4 separate regions of the Homo sapiens genome follow, and regions 1, 3 and 4 are each reported to be linked to region 2. The links are microRNA targets in miRTarBase. Many come from high-throughput screens and were not tested one by one. Region 2 holds a microRNA gene; each other region holds the end of a gene's coding sequence.
The links. Region 2 holds the annotated microRNA hsa-miR-6715b-5p (ACAGGCACGACUGGUUUGGCA, at 1,907-1,927, opposite strand). A microRNA usually pairs through its seed, bases 2 to 8, with sites in the 3' UTR of a target mRNA and lowers its output. Matches are read on the target gene's strand: a 7mer-m8 pairs with bases 2 to 8, a 7mer-A1 pairs with bases 2 to 7 and ends in A, and an 8mer does both.

Region 1 (3,116 bases), not on the chromosome of region 2:
AAGAAAGAAAACCCTCTGTGCACGTTGTCATGAACTTGCCAGCAAAAGCTATAGAGTTTCTTAGTGCTTTCAAGTGGCTTTTAGATGGGCAGCCATGCAGCAGTGAGTTCCTTCCCATAGTGCATTGTTATAGCTTTTCCAAAGATGCTAACCCTGCTGAGGATGTTCGGCAAAGGGCTGGAGCTGTGTTAGGCATTTCTCTGGAGGCATGCAGTTCAGTTCACCTGGTAAGAAATGTGGCCCCAAACAAGGAAATGCTGTGCATCACGTTTCAGATTCCTGCCTCTGTCCTCTACAAGAACCAGACCAGAAATCCAGGTGAGCAGTTTCTGGGAAATTAAATGTAAACCTTGCCATTCAATTGTAACTAATTCCTCCCAGTTTTACAAATTTTAATGCAGTATTAGTTCAGTCTAATAGAAAGCTACTGTGTTAGTTCAGTCTAATAGAAGGCTATTTCATTAAAATAGTAAATCTGCAAGAATGTTATTTCATGTTTAAGTTGACTAGATTAAAAATGCCTATATTGTTTGTTTTTTTAAGAGTATTTTCAACTGTTAATATCTTACCTAAAATAGGTTTTCTGGATTTATTACAGAGAATCATGAAGATCCACCTCTTAAAAGGCAGAGGACGGCTGAAGCCTTTTCAGACGAAAAAACACAAATTGTTTCAAACACTTAATTGGAAATGTTTTCTCCATCTCCCTACCAGACTTACATGTAGTGAAATAGAATTTGTATTATTTAATAAAATTTTAGGGTTTGGTTTTTACTATTGAACCCTTGTACTTTGCCTTATTTTACAAATTGAGGATTACCAATTAAACTTTAACTGAACTAAGGCTACCAAATACATTCCCTGTTATCTAAATTATAACATACAATTATTTTATAACAAAATATATCTAATTTTTATTGGATAAATATGAATAAATATTTTCTCTCAGGGAAAATAATTTTTGAAAGTAGGGTGATTGAGTACTAACTAGGAAGGTATTAACACCACTTTGTAGTTGTCCTTTACGTAACTACTCCTTTACTGCCAATTAACTATCACCATAAAAGTAATAAAAAATGAAATTATTTAGAACGGGGCAGGCAAACTACATCCTGCAGGCCAAATCTGTCCCACCACCTGTTTTCATATGGCCTGTGGCCTAATAATGTTCTTACGTTTTCCATTGGTTGAAAAATAATCAAAAGAACATTTTGTGACGTGAAAATTTTATGACATCTATTATGTATCAGTTTTAAAAATTAGAATTGTATGAAATTAAGAGTTTCAGAGTTCATAAAGTTTGATTGGAACATACCATGCTCATTTGTTTACATATCATCTGCAGCTGTTTTTTGTTTTTAATATGGAACGCTTCACGAATTTGCATGTCATCCTTGCGCAGGGACCATTCTGATCTTCTCTGTACCATTCCAGTTTTTTAGTATATGTGCTGCTGAAGTGAGGACTGCAGCTGCTTTCTTGAACAATAGCAGAGTTGAGTGGTTGCAACACACACTGAATGTGACTGTCATCACTTCACACTGCTGTTTGACACATCACAAATCACTGATGTGGTTGTAACGACAGCATTTTGAGTGCCATGTATATCACATGAACCCACATTTTATTTTTTATTACCAGAGCATATCTATTATAGCAAAACAAGAAAAGTGGACTTTGTTGTTATTTTTAAAGTACAGTAGGGTGTGAATTATTTTGATGTTGAATTAGACGACAAAGCATCTATATAGCTAAGCTAAAAGAATAACCATTGACATTACCAGACAAACCACTCATCACAGTATTCCCAACTCACAGGCAAGCAACTGTTAGAAAAATTAGAAAATTTAAAATGGAAATAACAAAGCAGAATTTCTTCACAAAATGAAAATGAGGCTGCAACAACAGTAAGTCTCTAAGTCAATCATTTGTTAGCCAAGCAAAGCCATTTATTGATGGTGTGAATTAATTATGTTTGGATGCAGCAGCTGAATATATCCAGAGAAAATAAACTTAAGATTACTGGCCTTTGGCAAGAACAGTTGCTTAAAGAGTTAAGGACATTGAAAGCGACATAAATAGTCACTTTAAAAAGGAAATGATTCTGGATGGTTCTTTGACTCTATTTTTATTTTTACTTAGAGACAGGGTCTTGCTCTGTTGCCCAGGCTGGAGTGTAGAGACACAGTTACACCTCAATGTAACCTTGAACTCCTAGGCTTGAGATCTTCCCATCTCGGCTTCCCAATGTGTGAAGGTTACAGGTGTGAGCCCTTATATGTGGCCCTCGTGAATGGTTTAGCACTATCCCCTTGGTGGTGTCCTTAAGATAATGAGTTATGAGATCTTGTTGTTTCAAAGTATGTGGCACTCGCCCCCCACACTCTCTTGCTCCTGCCTTCGCCATGTGAAGTGCCTTCTCCTATTTTGCCTTCTACCATGAGTAAAAGCTTCCTGAGGCTTCCCCAGAAGCAGATGCCAGTGCTATGCTTCCTATAGCCTGGAGAACTGTGAGCCAATTATACCTCTTTTCTTATAAATTACCCAGTATCAAGTATTTCTTTATAGCAATGCAAGAATGGCCTAAAACACAAGGCAAAACAACTTTGATATGGTACAGTCATTTTGACAATCGATATTTGAATCACAATATTTGATGACAATATCCTTACACATTTGTCATACTATCAAAGAGAAAGAAACAAGATTTCCATTCCCACAAATTTTAGTGAGTATATTTTCTGAGTTCAGCATTTTTAGGGACCTAGGTGCAAGTGCAAAGGAAATTTCCCTGTTTCAAAATCTATTTAACTGCAATTGAGGTGATTCAACCTAATTTTCAGTAAGAAGTGATTAAAATAATGACATGCTAAAAGGCAAATTTCAAGGGAAGAAATGTAAAAGAATTTTACAAATGCTTTCCAAGTGATGAATATGCTCAGTTAATTTCATATGCTCCTGGATTGATAGCAGTATTTGGCAATACCTATCTGTATGAGAAGACATTTTTAAAGATGAAATGTGTAAAATCTTATTACCATTAGTATTAATGGTTAATGATGGTTAATGATAACCATTAATAGGCAATCATTTACAACTGATTTTGATCACAGGGA
Region 2 (3,116 bases):
CCAGTCCTCGGAGGGCCTTATCTCCTAGGGATTTTCTTTCTTTGGGACACAGGTGTAACTTACTAAAAGTGTGACTCTTATAAGTCACTCCCCTCCCATCGTACCTTGTCTATAGAATGAGGACAGTAATACCCATCTCCTAGCTCATCAACTTGACCTCACAGTTGTGAAGATCAAGTGAGGTGCTGCTAATCAAAATGCCTGGGAAGGTTAGAGGTCATATAACCACCTCGGGAGCCTTGTGTGTAAATCGCTCAGCAGCTCTTGCTGGAGTTCAAGGAGATGACAGTTCACTCTTCTTTCCCCATCTGCCTCAGCTGCCCCACGGATGAAACCGTCCTCGTGCATGAGAATGGGAGAGATCACAGGGCAACCTTCCAATTCAATGCTTTCCGGTTCCAGAACATCCCCAAACTCTCCAAGGTGTGGTTACACTGTGAGACGTTCATCTGCGACAGTGAGAAACTCTCCTGCCCAGTGGTGAGCTGCCTCTCTCCAGAAGGACAATGTTACCTAAAGGGTGCCAGTATTGGAGGAGCTGGAGTTTGAGTGGGGAGATCATAACCAGGCCAGGGCAGCTGTGTGCTGAGGACATCTGGAGGAAATGGCACTGAGTATAAGGGCAGATGCTCGTGAGGGCAGATGCTCAGGGCCCTATCTGCCCTGCCTCCAACAACCCACATGGTCTGGCATGTGTCGCCTAACCTGCTGGGACCTGCTTTCTCATCCTTAAGCAAAGTGTGTTAAGTAATGATGGCCCTTCCCTCATCAGAGGGCAGTGTAGGTAAATGAAAGTGATAACAGACTTGGAAATACTTGGAAGAAGTGAAAAGGGCAAGGGAAATTCAAGGTCTAGGTGGCAGGGACAGGCCGTGGAAATAACTCAAAAGGTGGGTGTTTTTAGTCTTGACTGAACAGCCCGAGGGTTCACCTCTGTGACTTCAGAGAGATGCTGCAGAAATTCCCGACACTGGATCATGGCTGATTTGACCACGTGAGAGGAAGGCCTGGGCAGGCTGTGCTTTAACAAGCCAGCAGTCATGCCGGTGCTCACTCAAGCCTGAGAACCACCACTTAGACACTTAGACATGCCAAATCTCAAACTGTTCTCCTTTCTGGTCTCTTTCAACTGGAGACCTCGGTGTTTCCAAAGAGGCTGCTATCCACATAGCCTATAGTAACCAACAAAAATAAGGTCATAATCTCTATTGCTGTTGTTTCATTTGGCCAGAAAATGGTTCTTTATGAGCACAAACAGCAAAAGGGAAAGAAACCAGAGAGTGCAGAGCCAGGGAGAGGAGGGGAGAGACACTGTACAGTTGATCAAAGGATAAGTATCAATGCCATATTTTTAAAAAGAAAGAAAAGAAAATGAACCAGAATACAATTGCAAGTGTCCACTTCTCTAATTATTGTGGTGAGAGTGGTAAGTAGAAGCCTTATCAAAGGAAATGGGATCAATCCCTTCCACACTCAATGACCTCTTCCAGAAGGATTCCCTCTGGCTTGAAGAGTTAACAAAGTAAAGCTTTCTCTTTGTATTCAAGTTGGAGAAGGGATGAACAGTGTGTCTTCTGGGTTATTTTTTAAAAAGGTAACTCATCTCTGTTGACTGGGGAATTGTGACTCCACCCCATTTGTGACCTTTTTAAAATATCTTTTCTTTCTCTTTTCTCCCCTTTGCTCACGCATCATCCCACCTTCCCCGCTTCTCTCCTGTCTGCCTCTCTGGGTCTTCAGACCTGCGATAAACGGAAGCGCCTCCTGCGAGACCAGACCGGGGGAGTCCTGGTCGTGGAGCTCTCCCTGCGGAGTAAGCGTCTCTGTTTTCCTCTGTTTTCCAAACGGTTGAGTTCACGCTGGGCTGCGTCCACAGGCACAGCCGGTTTGAGCATTTTTACTGAATTGCCAAACCAGTCGTGCCTGTGGGCACAACCTTCACCTGCTCCTGGAGTCTTCCAGCCAGGGGTGGGGAACAGCTCAAGCCAAACGAAGGAGTTGAGGTTTGTTATCTACTCTGAAAGTTCTAACTGCACCCTAAATTCAAATACCCCCAAAGAATCAGGAAGTGCTGAGCTTCCAAACAGAGCATGCAGTGAACAATAATAATAGAAAATGAGATGTCATGGGGCCGGGCTCGGTGGCTCACGCCTGTAATCCCAGCACTTTGGGAGGCCGAGGTGGGCAGATCACTTGAGGTCAGGAGTTTGAGACCAGCCTGACCAACATGGTGAAACCCCACCTCTACTAAAAATACAAAATTACCTGGGCTTGGTGGGGCACGCCTGTAATCCCAACTACTCGGGAGGCTAAGGCAGGAGAATCACTTGAATCTGGGAGGCAGAGGTTGCAGTGAGCTGAGATCGCGCCATTGTACTCCAGCCTGGGCAACAAGAGCGAAACTCCGTCTCAAAAAAAAAAAAAAGAAAGAAAGAAAAAGAAGAAAGAAAGAGAGACAGACAGACAGACAGAAAGAAATAAAGAAAGAAAGAAAGAAAGAAAGAAAGAAAGAAAGAAAGAAAGAAAGAAAAGAAAGAAAGAAAGAAAGAAAGAAAGAAAGAAAGAAAGAGAAAGAAAAAAGAAAAGAAAAGAAAGAAGGAAGGAAGGAAGGAAGGAAAAATGAGATGTCATGAGAATGTCATGTGCAAGTCAAAAAACCTTTACTGAGTATCCAGCACTGCCTGGCCTGGCAGGGCACTAGGATTTCAGAAATAAATGTGACCCAAGCAGGCCCTGTCCTCAAGGGATTTACTGTCTAGCAAGGAGAGAGATGTTAGACACTAAGGGAAAGAGAAATTACTGTTAAGGAGGGTGACAGTGGGCTGGTGCCATGGTTGCACAGTTGATCATCACTAATGTGAAAATCCAAAATCCGAATGCTCCCAAATCTGAAACTTTTTGAGCACCCACATGATGCTCAAAGGTCATGCTCACAGGAAATGCTCATTGTAGCATTTTAGATTTCAGATTCCAGGTTTTCCAGTTAGGGATGCTCAACTAGTATAATGCAAAGATTCCAAAATCCAAAAAAAAATCTGAAATCTGAAACACTTCTGGTCCCAAGCATTTTGGATAAGGGATATTCATCCTGAATGGAGCAAAGGGATTCAACCTAG
Region 3 (3,000 bases), not on the chromosome of region 2:
TGATGAATGGCTGTTTGGTTGCCTGGGACATCCTCCGGCTATGCTTCCTGAGACCAGAGCTGCCACATCTCTGGTGGTAGCCACCCTTCTCAGGGATTGCTCCAGGTCTGGATGGAGGTGGCAGGATGCCTCAGACAGGCCTGGATCCAACTCCTGCTCTGCCTCCACCAGCTCAGGCCCTTGGGCAAGGCTTTTTAATGTCTCAATGCCTCAGTTTCTTCATCTGTAAAATGGGGATAATAAGATCCACAGTTGTTGTGAGGATTAATGTTTGCTTGGGAGGGGCTTCCGCCCTCCTCCACCATCCCTTTGCTTTGGGGGTTAGATCCTGGGGTATGGGGAATTAGATGTGCCTCATCCCACAGATCTGTGCAGCTTCCATTTGCCCCAGAGACTCAGGAACCTCTGGGAATAAAGGGCCTAATCAACACTAGTTTGGGACAAAAATACTGTGGGACACTATGCCAGTGTTCATAGCAGCATTATTCACAATAGCCTAAAGGTGGAAAGAACCCAAATGCCCATCACTGGATGGATGGATAAACAAAATGTGTTATATACTTGCGATGGAATATTATCCAGCCTTAAAATGGAAGGAAATTCTGATAGATGCTACAGCATGGATGAAACTTGAAGACATCATGTGAAGTGAAATAAGCCAGACACAAAAGGACAAATACTGCATTACTGTACTTATATCAGGCACCTGGAAGAGTCAAGTTCATAGAGACAGAAAGCAGAATAGGGGTTACCGGGGGCTAGGAAGAGGGGGTAACAGCAAGTCATTGTTGAATGGGTACAGAGTTTCAGTTTAAATGATGAAAAAGTTCTAAAGACAGAATAGTGGTGATGGTTGTGCAATGATGTGAATGTACTTAATGATATTGAACTGTACATTTAAAAATAGTTAAAATGGGCTGGGCGCGGTAGCTCACGCCTGTAATCCCAGCACTTTGGGAGGCCGAGGTGGGTGGATCACGAGGTCAGGAGATCGAGACCGTCCTCGCTAACATGGTGAAACCCCGTCTACTAAAAGTACAAAAAAAAAAACATTAGCTGGGTGTTGTGGCGGGCACCTGTGGTCCCAGCTATTCGAGAGGCTGAGGCAGGAGAATGGCGTGAACCCGGGAGGCAGAGATCACAGTGAGCCGAGAACGTGCCACTGCACTCCAGCCTGGGCGACAGAGCGAGACTCCATCTCAAAAAAAAAAAAAAAAAAAAAACCACAAAAAACAAAACAAAAAACAAAAATAGTTAAAATGGTAAAATTTGTCGTGTGTATTTTACCACCAAAAAGCCCACAGTGGCCAGGCATGGTGGCTCATGCCTGTAATTCCAGCACTTCAGCAGGCTGAGACGGGTGGATTACCTGAGGTCAGGAGTTTGAGACCAGCCTGGCTGACATGATGAAACCCTATCTCTACTAAAAATACAAAAATAAGCCGGGCATGGTGGTGGGCATCTGTAATCTCAGCTACTTGGGAGGCTGAGGCAGGAGAATCGCTTGAACTCGGGAGACTGAGGCTGCAGTGAGCTGAGATTTCATCATTGCACTCCAGCCTGGGTGACAAGAGCAAAACTCCGTCTCAAAAAAAAAAAAAAAAACCCCACAAAACAACGAAACAAAACTGTGGGACAGGCTGGGATACACACGGGCTGCAGGAGAGGCCAGAGGAATCTAGATGTGGCACTAAGACCTAAACTGATGGACAAGTGAGCGTGGGGTGTGGCTGTCCTGAGGGGTGCACTTGAGACCATGAAGGCAAAAGGCAAGTGTTTTGTACCCCAGGCAACTTTGCAGTAGCACCCTTTGACTGAGTGTAGCATCCAGGCACAGCCCACTAAGGAACAGGCAGCAATACTTCCTTTCTCTCAGGGCTCAAATTGAGACATCATTCACTTCACACACCCATTTTATAGGTGGAGAAATTCAGGTCTAATCAACACTTCTTTATTGAAGAGACCACCCCTGTGTATAGACTTTGGAGTGGCCCTGGGGGAGATAAGTGTGGGTGGGAGAGAAGATCCCAAACTACCAAAAGTTTGCTCCATGTCACAACCTGCCCTAGGCCTCCAGGCCAATGTGAACAGACAGGCACAAGGTTGAGCAGGATGGATGGTAAATGCCAAGCTGGGTGCAGTGACAGGGGCAGTGGCAGTCTGGGTCGACCTCCCATAAGAAGGAGTCACAAGGAGACATTGAAGGGTGGGAGGATTTGAAGAAGGGAAAAAAAGAGGTTGTCCTGAGGCTGGAGAGCTGAGCACAGTGTGGTGTTGACAGGGCCTGGCCTAACTGGATGTCAACAGTGAAGTAGAGGGGCATCATGGGATGTCAGGCTGGAAAGGGCAGTGCAGGTCCCACACAACAGGCAAAAGCTCTAGCTTTGGCCTGGAGGCAGCAGGGAGCTCCTGCAGTTCTAAACTGGGGTGGGTAGAACTCTTGTCCCCAGGTATGTCCATGGCTAGTCTCCCCAGGGCCTGGATGGTGGGGGCAAACCCCTCTTTGGCTCCTTCCTGCATAGCCACCCTTAGAATTGCCTCTGCTTCTCAGGTCTTTGAGACTGGTACAGACTCATCCAAAAAGCCATCTTCTTCTCCTTGAGCTTCATGCCCACTCTTGTGGTAAAATCCAGCTGCAGGTACTTTTCATCCTTGTTGTAGCGTGGCCAGCAGGGCAGATTCCCATCATTGGGGTTTCTGCCCAGAAATAAAAAAGAGAGGATTACCTGTGTTCCTTTTCATCCTGCTTCTTTCTTTCACCCTTCCCTCGTTTAATTTGCCCTTGGGACTTGGGGTTCCAGAGGGCTTTACGGAGATGATACTTAGAACTTTAATAAAGAGTAGGAAAGTGTGTATTGGGGTGGGCCTTCCAGGCAGAGCAAACAGTATGTGCCAGGTTGAGAGATATAAAAGACCAAGGCTTTTGGAGGAAGCACAAGTCAAGAGTTAGGTAAAAACAGAGTGTGTGTGTGGCCAGGCCTGGTGGCTCATGCCTGTAAT
Region 4 (3,116 bases), not on the chromosome of region 2:
GGCCTTGGGATCCAAGATCTGAACATCTAGTATGATTCCTTCATTGTACAGATGAGGAAACAAGACCAGAGGGGGAAAGCAACTTGGCCAGCATCATCTGGCAAATTGAGGCAGGCATAGGGCTAGACCCTGGCTTCCTAACTCCCAGTCCAATGTTCTTACAGCAGATGATGCTTCTATAATTTTGGTGGCAGGGGCAATGGGTACAGGGTACAACCAAGAGCCTCTTCGCTATTTTACTATTGAGATTGGGGTGCTGTGGAGGTGAGGGGGTACCAGTGGACCTTCCTTCCCTAGCAGTCTGGCTGGGCACTAGGAGTGGGGGATCTTCAGCAGGAGGGTGGGTGGTGTGGCTGGGGGTGGAGGAAGAACATGCCCTTATCTCTCTCCTCTCTCTGCAGGATGTTATGCTAAAAACTTCGGGCCCAAGGGCTTTGGTTTTGGGCAAGGAGCTGGGGCCTTGGTCCACTCTGAGTGAGGCCACCATCACCCACCACACCCTGCCCACTCCTGCGCTTTTCATCGCCATTCCATTCCCAGCAGCTTTGGAGACCTCCAGGATTATTTCTCTGTCAGCCCTGCCACATATCACTAATGACTTGAACTTGGGCATCTGGCTCCCTTTGGTTTGGGGGTCTGCCTGAGGTCCCACCCCACTAAAGGGCTCCCCAGGCCTGGGATCTGACACCATCACCAGTAGGAGACCTCAGTGTTTTGGGTCTAGGTGAGAGCAGGCCCCTCTCCCCACACCTCGCCCCACAGAGCTCTGTTCTTAGCCTCCTGTGCTGCGTGTCCATCATCAGCTGACCAAGACACCTGAGGACACATCTTGGCACCCAGAGGAGCAGCAGCAACAGGCTGGAGGGAGAGGGAAGCAAGACCAAGATGAGGAGGGGGGAAGGCTGGGTTTTTTGGATCTCAGAGATTCTCCTCTGTGGGAAAGAGGTTGAGCTTCCTGGTGTCCCTCAGAGTAAGCCTGAGGAGTCCCAGCTTAGGGAGTCACTATTGGAGGCAGAGAGGCATGCAGGCAGGGTCCTAGGAGCCCCTGCTTCTCCAGGCCTCTTGCCTTTGAGTCTTTGTGGAATGGATAGCCTCCCACTAGGACTGGGAGGAGAATAACCCAGGTCTTAAGGACCCCAAAGTCAGGATGTTGTTTGATCTTCTCAAACATCTAGTTCCCTGCTTGATGGGAGGATCCTAATGAAATACCTGAAACATATATTGGCATTTATCAATGGCTCAAATCTTCATTTATCTCTGGCCTTAACCCTGGCTCCTGAGGCTGCGGCCAGCAGAGCCCAGGCCAGGGCTCTGTTCTTGCCACACCTGCTTGATCCTCAGATGTGGAGGGAGGTAGGCACTGCCTCAGTCTTCATCCAAACACCTTTCCCTTTGCCCTGAGACCTCAGAATCTTCCCTTTAACCCAAGACCCTGCCTCTTCCACTCCACCCTTCTCCAGGGACCCTTAGATCACATCACTCCACCCCTGCCAGGCCCCAGGTTAGGAATAGTGGTGGGAGGAAGGGGAAAGGGCTGGGCCTCACCGCTCCCAGCAACTGAAAGGACAACACTATCTGGAGCCACCCACTGAAAGGGCTGCAGGCATGGGCTGTACCCAAGCTGATTTCTCATCTGGTCAATAAAGCTGTTTAGACCAGAACTCTGGTGTCCAATCCTGTGTCTGTGGAGCTGGGAGGGAACTCAATGGGAGCAATCAAATTAGCAGGGGCTTTGGGAGGCCGAGGCAGGCGGATCACCTGAGGTCAGGAGTTTGAGACCAGCCTGGCTAACATGGTGAAATTCTGACTCAACTAAAAATACAAAAAATGAGCCAGGCATGGTGGTGGGTGCCTGTAATCCCAGCTACTTGGGAGGCTGAGGCAGGAGAATCGCTTGAACCCGGGAGGCAGAGGTTGCAGTGAGCTGAGATCACACCATTGTACTCCAGCCTAGGCAACAAATGTGAAACTCTGTCTCAAAAAAAAAGCAGGCAGCCTGGTGGAAATGAATCAAAGTGGATTCGTTCCTGCTTTTTCTAAGGACCAATTACTTCTCAGTATCAATGCCAACTGAACCACACTGTCTGAAGTGACCCGACCAGCCAAACACCACTGGCTTGTCCTGTCTGGTCTCCACCCCCAAATCTGGGCCTGGGAATTGCATGGACTTTGGACTTGGAGGGGCTCAGCTAGGCCCCAAAACTGTGCTCAGAACTTCTCCCAGCTCGGAAAGCCCCAGCCTAAGAGGGAAACTCAACCAGAGGAACTTTCACGTCAAATCTAGAAAGCTCACTTCTACCTAGGAGGGGTGTGGTGGAGGGGCCTGGCTCAGCCTGCTGTGCTGTTAGGGCCCCCACAGCAAGTCCGTGGAAGGCCACATTTTTTTTTGGAAATAGGTTCATGTGAGGGGTTGCGGCATCCTTCATCTTAGGCATACCTGCCTGATGCGTTGGGGCTGTGCTGCTTTGCTTCAGCCCTTCTCGAAAATGTGCCCACACTAAGTTTTCAAAACAAAAGCAGATGCTTTAATAACAACAAGGCCTCGTGTACCTATTTCCCAGATGACCAGCTCCAACAGTGGCCTTGACAGAGGCCCCTCCTGGACTCTGAGAAAGGCACCTATGCATGCATAACACCCATCAATGGTGCAGAGCAATAGAAAAGTACAAGATGACCGGGAGAAGAGCTGGAGGAGTTCAGGGAATGCCAGCCCAGGGTGGGCTCTGGCTGGGAGTTCTGCAATCGGGGTCAAGGGCTCCATCTTGGTAACCCCTCTGGCTCCAGCACAGGGGGTGGCCCACGAAAGGTGCTCCGGACAAGTTTCCGCAGCCAGGAGGACGGCTGGTTCCACACACCCAGGTGGACCCTTCTGTCTGGGAGGGGCCTACAGGAGTGGCCCGGATGGGAGCCTTTGGGGCCCAAAGCTGGAGAGAGGCTGCCCTCTGCTGGCTGATCGGGAGGGCCTGTCGGCGACCGTCCTGTGCCTTGCACCACTAGCTGTCTTGCTCCCGGGCCACTGTTTTTCAGTGCAGCCCCACGGTGGGCAAGGGGCCCTGACGCACCTCCTGGGAATAAGACCTGGGTAAAGGCAGTAGGCTGTAAGCCAGCTGCGGCCA

Region 1: miRTarBase lists TRMT5 as a target of hsa-miR-6715b-5p. The part of its 3' UTR that is shown has no 7-base or 8-base seed match.
Region 3: the mRNA of CES4A is a reported target of hsa-miR-6715b-5p. Seed matches in the 3' UTR shown: 7mer-m8 at 2,093-2,099 and 7mer-m8 at 1,829-1,835.
Region 4: miRTarBase lists CSRP1 as a target of hsa-miR-6715b-5p. Seed matches in the 3' UTR shown: 7mer-A1 at 638-644.

The regions. Positions count from the first base shown.
Region 1 is chr14:60,972,677-60,975,792 of GRCh38, reverse strand. It overlaps TRMT5 (tRNA methyltransferase 5), which reads left to right. Exons shown (of 5, transcript NM_020810.3): 4 at 1-318; 5 at 599-3,116. The coding sequence ends at 684. It also overlaps the pseudogene RNU6-398P. Among named protein-coding and RNA genes, the nearest start is that of TRMT5, 6.8 kb to the left of the region's middle.
Region 2 is chr10:112,297,752-112,300,867 of GRCh38, forward strand. It overlaps MIR6715B (microRNA 6715b), which reads right to left and starts at 1,937; the gene lies at 1,861-1,937. It overlaps TECTB (tectorin beta), which reads left to right. Exons shown (of 11, transcript NM_058222.3): 8 at 318-480; 9 at 1,741-1,813. MIR6715A (microRNA 6715a) reads left to right here and starts at 1,861; the gene lies at 1,861-1,939.
Region 3 is chr16:67,008,671-67,011,670 of GRCh38, reverse strand. It overlaps CES4A (carboxylesterase 4A), which reads right to left. Exons shown (of 14, transcript NM_001364782.1): 14 at 1,254-2,697. The coding sequence ends at 2,529. Among named protein-coding and RNA genes, the nearest start is that of CBFB, 19 kb to the left of the region's middle.
Region 4 is chr1:201,482,075-201,485,190 of GRCh38, reverse strand. CSRP1 (cysteine and glycine rich protein 1) reads left to right here. Exons shown (of 6, transcript NM_004078.3): 6 at 402-1,661. The coding sequence ends at 478. Among named protein-coding and RNA genes, the nearest start is that of PHLDA3, 14 kb to the right of the region's middle. RefSeq lists an enhancer at 1,874-2,203.